Linked DNA regions of Homo sapiens: all the other regions are reported to be linked to region 2. The links are microRNA targets in miRTarBase. Many come from high-throughput screens and were not tested one by one. Region 2 holds a microRNA gene; each other region holds the end of a gene's coding sequence. Distances are from middle to middle.

Evidence for each region. Region 2 holds the annotated microRNA hsa-miR-6732-5p (UAGGGGGUGGCAGGCUGGCC, at 1,659-1,678, opposite strand). A microRNA usually pairs through its seed, bases 2 to 8, with sites in the 3' UTR of a target mRNA and lowers its output. Matches are read on the target gene's strand: a 7mer-m8 pairs with bases 2 to 8, a 7mer-A1 pairs with bases 2 to 7 and ends in A, and an 8mer does both.
Region 1: the mRNA of GPS1 is a reported target of hsa-miR-6732-5p. Seed matches in the 3' UTR shown: 7mer-m8 at 299-305.
Region 3: the mRNA of ZNF436 is a reported target of hsa-miR-6732-5p. Seed matches in the 3' UTR shown: 7mer-m8 at 2,271-2,277.

The regions. Positions count from the first base shown.
Region 1 is chr17:82,056,860-82,060,202 of GRCh38, forward strand. It overlaps GPS1 (G protein pathway suppressor 1), which reads left to right. Exons shown (of 13, transcript NM_001321092.3): 12 at 1-115; 13 at 194-611. The coding sequence ends at 268. It overlaps DUS1L (dihydrouridine synthase 1 like), which reads right to left. Exons shown (of 14, transcript NM_022156.5): 11 at 3,089-3,234; 12 at 1,922-1,959; 13 at 1,482-1,557; 14 at 647-1,395. The coding sequence ends at 1,256. Among named protein-coding and RNA genes, the nearest start is that of GPS1, 6.6 kb to the left of the region's middle.
Region 2 is chr1:37,478,569-37,481,912 of GRCh38, reverse strand. MIR6732 (microRNA 6732) reads right to left here and starts at 1,683; the gene lies at 1,624-1,683. ZC3H12A (zinc finger CCCH-type containing 12A) reads right to left here. Exons shown (of 6, transcript NM_025079.3): 3 at 1,484-1,623; 4 at 78-312. RefSeq lists enhancers at 1,335-2,161, 1,931-2,225, 1,999-2,538, 2,162-2,988.
Region 3 is chr1:23,359,169-23,362,168 of GRCh38, reverse strand. ZNF436 (zinc finger protein 436) reads left to right here. Exons shown (of 4, transcript NM_001077195.2): 4 at 1-2,721. The coding sequence ends at 200. Among named protein-coding and RNA genes, the nearest start is that of ZNF436-AS1, 8.3 kb to the left of the region's middle.

The DNA.
Region 1 (3,343 bases), not on the chromosome of region 2:
GGATCAGCGCAGCACCACCTTTGAGAAGTCTCTGTTGATGGGCAAGGAGTTCCAGCGCCGCGCCAAGGCCATGATGCTGCGGGCAGCTGTGCTCCGCAACCAGATCCATGTCAAGGTGGGCTGGCTTGAGGGGGGGCAGGCGCACGGCGTGTGGGGCCTGGTGGCTGTGAGCTGCTCCTTGTCTCCCCTGCAGTCCCCGCCCAGAGAAGGGAGCCAGGGGGAGCTGACTCCAGCCAACAGCCAGTCCCGGATGAGCACCAACATGTGAGGGGTGAACCTTGGCCTCCAGGACATCTGCACCCCCTCCCCACCTCCACGGACCTCGGACCTCCAGGCGGCTCAGTGCTGCCTGCGGCCCAGCTAAGGGGCCTGGCCACTGGGTGCCACCCAGCCTGTGTGCCCTCCCTGGGGCTGAGGAGGCAGGCGGCTGCTAGTTGTGGCCCTTCCTGGAAGGAGAGGCCTGCAGGGCTCGACCCTGTGGGTTTCTGTCCCCAGGGAGCAGACTGTGCGGCACCCAGGCCCAGTGGCACCATTTCCCAGACCCCTCCTGTTCCCGCCTCAGTCAGGTGCAGACAAGTGGGCGGTGTCCATTAAAGAGCAGACTCAGCGTTGCTCTTGGCTGTTCTTTCCTGCCGTGCAGGCTCTGGTCACCCCTGGGTGGCCTTGGGTTCCTGAGGGCTGTCTCCCTGGGACTAGGCTTGGAGGCAGGGCCTGGTGAGAGAAATGAGAAGCCTGGCCCTCAGATTCAACAGCCCCCAGCAGCAGCCACTGTGGCCTCGCAGGCGGTGCTTCCAAGGCTGTGAGGCATCACGAAGCTCCCGGAGGCTTTGGCCACTTGCCTATGGAGGCGCCTAGGGGAGGTGGGGAGGGGACCTAAGCCCCCACTTTTGTCTACCCAGATGCTGCCTTCATTTAGATGTATCCTGTTGTTCAGAAGCCCCCACTGGCCCCAACCGCACCTGCCCCGGCTCATGCCTCCCTGGGTCTGAGAGGGCAGTGGTCACAGGCTGTGGGCTCTCGCATCTTTGAAATGATTTATTGTTCACTTTTGCACACGCGTGCTGAGGACAGGGCAGGTCCAGCCTGGGGCCTGCTCCCCACTGCAGCATTTCCAGGCCCCCAGAGTGGGCCGAAGGGGGACATGGGCGTGTCTTTCCACATTAAGTAGCAGGAGATTCCCTGAGTAAAAGGCATTTTCTTAAGTAGGACGTGTCCAGGCTCCAGCAGCAGTCCTGGGGGTGGGGGTTGTGGGCCTTCAGGCCAGGGCACTGCCCATGACTTCGGAGAAGCCACCTGGTGTTCCAGGTGCTGCTGGCTGAGGCTCCTGCAGCTCAGGCTGGGCCTCTTTCCAGGCCAGAGACTTCTCCAATTTGGTTTTAAAAAGCAATCCGTGACCTGGCAGAGCGAGTGAGAGGAGTCGGGGGTCAGGAGGCGGAGGGGGTCTGTTTGCCTGCTGCGGGGCGGGTGGTAGGCGCCCTCACCTGGGCAGTCTGCAGTCTCTTTGGAGGCTCGCTTCTTGCAGCAGCCGCGGCACAGGCTGAACACACATCTGTTGCCCTGGGCACAGGAAATCTCGGGAGCCTGTGGCCAGCACCACTCCCGGGGCCAGGCTGGCCAGCAGGGGAGCAGCCCCACTGGGGAAGCCTCTGCCAGATGCCCACGGCCTGGATGCAGCCCTGGGAACTGCTCCCAAGCCAGATGCCTCTCCCTCACCCCCACCCACCCAGACTCTCTTCCCCTCCAGGCCTGGGCAGGGGCTTGGCTGGAAGCAAGGGGCCGTCCTGAGGCATCCATGCCACCTTGAGCCACGTTGCAAACCCAGCTGGGCGGGCACCAGACCTGCCACCCCAAGCAGTGCAGAGACCACCCTGCCCACCCCCAAAGCTGAAGCCTTGGTGGCTTGCAGCCGGAACCCACTCACCTTTGGGTTTCCACACTGGTCACACTTTGCATATTTTGCTAGGAAAAGAACAAAAGGGTGCTGGTGAGTGAGGGCCAGGGTGCCCTGGCTGTGGGGGCTGCCCCGTCCGCCTGCACGGAGCCTGCTGATGGCGTCCATGCCAGCTGTGGCCAGCCAGGCCAGGAGGCTCAGGGAGGGCAGAGGATGCAGGCTGGCCACGTCTGCTTTTCCTTCCGTGAGCAATGGGTGAGGGGATGCAGGGGGCACCATCCTGCAGGAAACGGATAGGAAGCAGGTGGGCTGGGGGGCCGCCGCAGGACGAGCAGCCTTATCTGTCCTACCCCCAGGCAGGGACAAGGGGAGCAGTTTTCCTGCCCACAGGGTCCAAGGGGGGTTCCATGCCCTTCAGTTCCAGGTCTCCCAAGCAAAAGGGCCAAGAAGGGTCAAATCAAGAATTCAGCCTGAAGCCCCACTTCCTGCCTCTCCCAGCTGCCTCATTCAGTGGCCTGGTGGGGGGCAGTGTGGCAGGCAGGGACTGCTGGCACCAGCCTGATGTGGCAGCTGCTCTTGGACTGGCCAGCGCCCTGGGGGTTACATGGGAAGGTTTCAGGGTTATCGCTGGTCTCCCCTGCAGCTTGTAAAGTTGTCAGAGATCTGGGAGGCTGCCACCTGTTGAGGGCCCAGATGGGCTGGCCCAGGATACGGCGGCGACCAGGGGTCTCAGGGGAGACAGCACTAGGCTGAGGCCTTGCCACTGGTGGCTAAGAGAGGGGCGAGCAGCCTCGTCCCGTGCCTTTGGCCCAGCAACAAGACCCATGCACACACTCCCGGGGACCCCAGCCTCCCTCTCAGCAGCTGCTCAGGTGTCCTGTGTGAGGCTGGGCAGGGGCAGCCGCAGGGACCCGAGGCCCTGAGCTGTAGACGAGCTTCACCTGGCTGAAAAGCTTGTCCCATAGCCTCATCTGATTCACTGAGCCCATGTCCCACATGCACGGGCTGTGGCCTGCACAGGGTCCCCGTTCTGACCCCAAGTCTGGCTGACTACTCCGCCAAGCCCTCCAGGTGTCTGCTTCCAGCTCTGGGCCTTGAGCCTTGCTGACCACAAGTCTGGGTTCCTGTTACTGGCAACAGGGAGGATGGGGGTGATGAAGAGGCTCTCTCGGGCCCATCAGCGGAAGCAGCACTTACGCTTCAGAGAGGGGTCGAAGGTCTTGTGGGGGTTCCTCAGCTGCTTCTTTTGCTTGTTCTTGGACAGGACCTCCGTGCCACCCTCCTCTTCCTCCAGGGCCCGCTTGCTGCGCGCACCTGCCTTCTCCTTGCTCCCCTCCCTGGGCCTGAGGGGAGGGCAGCGGGCAGAGCCCAAGGACACTGTGAGAGGGGCCCAGCAGCCACAGCCACACGGGTCTGAGTCTGGGTGAGGGGCCAGGCGGCCGTGGCGAGTGC
Region 2 (3,344 bases):
GCTCCACCCTTGCCAAGGGCACCTCTGGCTTCCCCTGTGGACCCCAAGTCTGTCAGGGCCTCTGGGAGGGAACATACTTGTCATTGACGAAGGAGTACATGAGCAGCCGCTCCTCGATGAAGCGCTTCCACTCCTGCCGCTCGCCTTGGAGGTCACGGTATGTGTCGTTGGAAACCACGATCCCGTCAGACTCGTAGGCCAGCTTCACAATGAATCTGTCGTCATAGCACACCACCCGCTTGCCACCCACGCGTCGTGATGGTGTGAACACCAGGATCTTCTTCTTCTCCAGTTCCCGCAGGATGTGCTGGTCTGGGAGGTGACGGGTGCACACAGGTCAGGGCCCAGCGGGACCTAGAGCCAGGCCTACAGGGCTCCCTAACCTGCTGATGGCCACACACAGGAGTGGTTAACGCCAAGGTCACCGGGGCAAGAACTAACTCTGCTGAGGCCTCTTCCATGCCCCAGCCCCTCCCTTGGCGTGGCACAGTTTGCTGCCTGAAGACCAAGAACATCTGAACACAGGCGGCAGGGCCTGCATGGCAGAGGCTCCAAGCACAGAGCTGGCCTTGTTCCTTTTCTCCTTCTGGACATCAGGCCTGTTCAAGCCAGATGTGGTCTTGGCTTTGGCTTTCATCCAGCCTGTTCTGAGGGGTCCGTGAATGAGCCGCAGCTTGCTCTGGGGTGGGAGAAGTATCTTGGCTCTGTCCCTTGCATTGCCAGGACAAGGTCGCTAAATCCCATGGTGGGAAAAGGTCAGGCCACTCACCATGCCCCACCTGGGGAGCTGCTGGGACCACAGGGACACAGAAGTGTGCAAGTGGAAAGGGCCCCTCTTCCTGGAGCCTACAGTCCCAGACAGGCTGCCCCCAGATCTCAAGACTTCTAGAGAAACTGATTCAGTTTTTACCTCCAAAGGCTGGGGGCTCTTGCAAGAACAGTGGTAACAGCTAACATACACTGAGCATCTACCATGTGCCAGGTACTCTTCTCAGCACTTACCGTGTGTTAACTTATATGACCTCACGAGGAAGGCAATGCTGTCAACACCCCCTGCTGACACCGACCCCATGTTTCAGATGAGGAGCATGTGGCTCAGAGCAGGGCTAAGAGGGGTCCCTGTCCAGGCCAGGGCGCCAAGAGGGGACAGAGCCAGGATTCCAACTCTGGCTGTCTCGACTCAGAGCCCACAGGCTTAACCACTATGTGATACTGCGCTTCTGCCACTGGGGATGTTGAAAGAGCGACCTGCCCACCAGTAGGATGAGGGAGGGGCTCCAGATCTGAGGCAGAAGACTGGACAAGGTGACCTCCAATGACCACCATTCAGAGCAGGTTGCTAAGGACAGAAAAAACTGAGAAAAGAAATGCTGGTCCCTGCTTGAGTTCTAGAAGTTGTAGGTCACTCCCAGAGGGTCTCTCTTGGGGAGAACCAGGGCTGCTGGGGCAGTAAGACCATCCCACCTCCAGAGGCACCACTCACCTGTGATGGGCACGTCGGGCCGAGGCTGCTCCTTCCTCCAGGATGGCACAAACACTGTGATGTCTGTGTGGCCCCGCTCCAGAAACCAGTTCACTGCCAGCAGGATGCCCCGGCAGGAGAAGACCTCCTTGTTCCCATGGCTGGGAGGGAGAGGACAGGGTTAGCCCACACTGATGGCCAGCCTGCCACCCCCTAGGCCTGAGCAGGAGGAGGGAGGTGGTCACACCCCACCCCTGCCCTGGCTTTGGTGGTGGTAGTGAGCAGTCCCTTCCCCTTTGGAGTCACCAGCCCCTTCCCCTTTCCCCAGGGCTCAGGCCCTGGCCCTCTGCAGGTGGGGCCCAAGGCCAAGGCCTCCATTCCCAGTGCCAGTTCCCACAGCTCCAGGATGGCCAGGCCCCGCTGGGACTTTCCCTGAGGCTCCATCTCCTGAAAGTGAGGAAGCGCCCAGGAAGCTGGCAGCACTGCTCCCCACGGTGGGGGAGGGCCAGGCCACTTGCAACACACCTGGGGGTGGGGGAAAGGTGCCGCGAGACTTCTGGTTCCTGCCCCACCCGGCGAGCTGCCGGGACCACAGGGACAGATGTACACATGCACACTGAGTCACCACCCCTCCCTCGCCTCTTGCAGCGTGGGTGGGGGCGGGGGAAGCACCGGCTGGGCTGACCGAGGAGAAACCAGATTGTTCCGGATTAAAGTTCAGTCCTCACACACACCTCAGGGACTGGGGCCTGAGAAAGGCAAAGGGGAAGGGGCTGGCGACTCCAGCCTTCAGCATGGGACAGAAAGCGCCGGAGTGAAGCAAGTTCCCCAGGAGCCTTTCAGTCTGAAAGTGAAAGGATACTGCTTTTCCTCCCAAGATGGCAATTCCCCCAAATGCCTCTTCACCCCAAGGCAGAAAGACCATCAGGAAGATGCTAGGGGACTCTTAGCAAGGACAGCTGAGTAAGGCATGGGCCCTGCCTTGGTCTCAGACGAGGCCGCGCCCCACCCACAGGTGGCTGCACCCAGAAGGAAGCCTGGCAGGGCTCCTGGGCTGCCGCAGCTCTCCGTTCCTCTATCTGAAAATGGGCCCAGCAGTCTGCAGCTTCCTTAAGAGGGGTCAGTCAGTGGGACAGCTTTCCTGGTGGCTTCAGGCCAAAGATGGCCCTGCAAAGTAGGGGTTCCAACTGGATTTCCTGAGGGATGGGGGACTGGGGCTTGGGGCTCCCAGGTAACACTAGGTGTCATGGAAGAGCTCCTAGGACCAGCAGCCCCACGTCTCACTGCCCCCTCAGTGAACAGCTTAGACTCTCGTATTTGGCAAATAAAACAGAATAAATGTTACGCAAAAGAGGCAAGTCCAGGGCCAACCACATCCTGTGGGTGTCTTTAATGGGAGTGGGGGAGGTAAGGGGTGATAGCTGGAGCCCTAAGAGAAGCTAGGGAGGGAGGTGGGGCAGCTGGGGGCCATGGAGGCTATTTGGGGGCAAGACTGGGGCACCAGGGTCTGAAGGTCTCTAAATTGTAGGGGAGACAAAGTCCAGCCCAGGGCAGCACTCATCCTTCCCGGTCCCTCTGCCACATCTGCCAGCCTGCTTATAATAAAAGTTCCCATTTGCTGAGAGCTGTGAACCAGGCCCTGTTATAAGTGTCTAACACTGAATCATCAGCAAGCTTGTGAGGAGGGCACTATACCATCATCAACTCCTTCCCTGTTTTTCAGATGAAAACTGTGGTCCAGAGAAGGCAGCTTAGTCACCAGGGTCACACAGCAGTTAACGGTGGAAGAGAGACGCAAGCCCAGGGCCTATGCTTATCACTACCCTGTACGTCAATGCTCAGGCAGGTACGAAGGCAGGCACAGACCCTGATCGCAGGGAAT
Region 3 (3,000 bases), 14 Mb from region 2:
TAATTAAACATCAGAGAACCCACACAGGGGAGAAGCCCTACGAGTGTGTGCAGTGTGGGAAAGGTTTCACCCAGAGCTCCAACCTCATCACACATCAAAGAGTTCACACGGGAGAGAAACCTTATGAATGTACCGAATGTGAGAAGAGTTTCAGCAGGAGCTCAGCTCTTATTAAACATAAGAGAGTTCATACGGACTAAGCTGTAATTATGATGGCTGAGAAATGATTCATTTGAAGATACAATTTTATTTGATATCAATGAACGCCCTCAAGACTGAGCTGCTTTTATCATACTCTCCTAGTTGTGGGCCACGATTTAAACCATCAGAGATGACAAGCCATTTGAAATTCTGACCCTCAGCTTTGGGAATGTTATCTCCTCCAAAATGGTGATTTTTATTCACTCAATGGGTTACTTCATTAAAAGCAGCCCCACAAGTAACTGGAAATCTGAAGACCAGGGGACAAATGCTGGTGAATGCTTAGGCCTGGAAATGGAGTAAATCTTTCAATGTTATTTTCTCCCATCCTTGGCCCAAGGAACTATGCTAAGTGAAACGTGGGACTGTAATAGGGTGGTAATGGCTGCTTTGGAAAAAGGCAACTAGAGACTCTGCCTAAATTGCCACACCTATTCACACACCATAGTAGTTGGGCACACACATCTTCCCTTCCAAAGGGCTTTTTCCTTGAGTTGCTCATGCATTTGTATCTTTTCCATCTTCCTGAGGGCAAGATTTTGCACGATGAAGGCAATGATTGTAACTTTTCTCCTTCTCATTGTTTCTAATTAGCTCCTTTAAAGCTTGCATCTTTGTGAAGGCTAACTGAAGATACGGTTGGAAAGGAAAAATGAGACACAGGTTTGGGGACCAAGGACCCATCAATGATGGTGACTTTAGCAGAAGATGCCCACAGTTATTACTGCCATTAATCAGATTTATGAATTTTCTTTGGGGATCACTATAGGGAATATTGTATAGAAAATATCTTCAAGAAAAGATAGGACCATCAGTGACAGTTAAGTGTAAGGAGCAAGTGGAATTGAGTCCTTCAGGGAAGGAACCACAGAGTCCCTTCCCAAGGAATGTAGGTCGTTTCTGTGTTCTTTCCCTTCTAATCTTTAAGATCAACTCTTCCTATCCTGCTAACTCTAAGATTTGATAAGGGCCACATCCCAGTGTTTATCTTAGCTTGCATCAGGGCATGTGTATGTACAGTAATGTGTATTCCTGTGGTTTTTCTAATAGAAACTGAATTTACAGAGACTTAGCATGTTCTTGGGTGATGTGAGTCATGTGACAGAAGTACAGACATAACTCCAATGTGAGAAATGTCCTTTTTTCATTATGGAAAATAATTTAAACACTAGTGCTTTAGTGTGCACTCTCCTGTAAGGTCTGTCTTTGTACAGAGCTAAGCACTTGTTTGTATGTGTTTGTCAATTGTGGAAGATAATGACCAGACAAATAGGTCGATTGTCCTATTCTCAGAATGAATTATCTTCTATGGTAATGAAGAACTCTTTGGCTTAGTCAGAAGGAATTAACGAACCTCGGTAGGAATGTATTTCCATCCTCCCACCCTACAGATATAAGAGGTTAAAATAACAGTTCGCCCAATTTAAGCCCAGTAGTGTCAGTTTTCCTAATCTCAGTCCAGGTAGGAATTAAGAAATATCTCAAGTGTTGATGCTATCCAAGCATGTTGGGGTGGAAGGGAATTGGTGCCCAGAAAATGGGACTGGAGTGAGGAATATCTTTTCTTTTGAGAGTACCCCCAGTTTATTTCTACTGTGCTTTATTGCTACTGTTCTTTATTGTGAATGTTGTAACATTTTAAAAATGTTTTGCCATAGCTTTTTAGGACTTGGTGTTAAAGGAGCCAGTGGTCTCTCTGGGTGGGTACTATAATGAGTTATTGTGACCCACAGCTGTGTGGGACCACATCACTTGTTAATAACACAACCTTTAAAGTAACCCATCTTCCAGGGGGGTTCCTTCATGTTGCCACTCCTTTTTAAGGACAAACTCAGGCAAGGAGCATGTTTTTTTGTTATTTACAAAATCTAGCAGACTGTGGGTATCCATATTTTAATTGTCGGGTGACACATGTTCTTGGTAACTAAACTCAAATATGTCTTTTCTCATATATGTTGCTGATGGTTTTAATAAATGTCAAAGTTCTCCTGTTGCTTCTGTGAGCCACTATGGGTATCAGCTTGGGAGTGGCCATAGATGACCGCATTTCCATGACCTAACTGTATTTCACCCCCTTTTCCTTCCCTACTGTTCTTGCCCCACCCCAACCAGTTCCTGCTGCTGCTTTTGGCTTCTTGGAGGTGAAGGGCTTAAAACAAGGCTTCTAAGCACCCAGCTATCTCCATACATGAACAATCTAGCTGGGAAACTTAAGGGACAAGGGCCACACCAGCTGTCTCCTCTTTCTGCCAATTGTTGCCCGTTTGCTGTGTTGAACTTTGTATAGAACTCATGCATCAGACTCCCTTCACTAATGCTTTTTGCATGCCTTCTGCTCCCAAGTCCCTGGCTGCCTCTGCACATCCCGTGAACACTTTGTGCCTGTTTTCTATGGTTGTGGAGAATTAATGAACAAATCAATATGTAGAACAGTTTTCCTTATGGTATTGGTCACAGTTATCCTAGTGTTTGTATTATTCTAACAATATTCTATAATTAAAAATATAATTTTTAAAGTCAGCAAACCTGAGAATTATTTTAGTAACCCAGCACTGATTCATTTAATGGCTTTTCATCAGAGTCATTAAAATTGGGCATGATTGTCTTTACACTGATGCATTCCGTACAGATGTACAGATATATTACACAGATGTTCTGTAGGAATTTGGGAGTACAGTATCTTGAGCCCTTTGGTTATTGCCATATCTTGGGAAGATGAAAAAACCTGAGTAGTTTTCTACGAAGGTTATGCTGGTGACAGAAGCCACATAGGAATATTTGGTATGGGTGACTCATTAG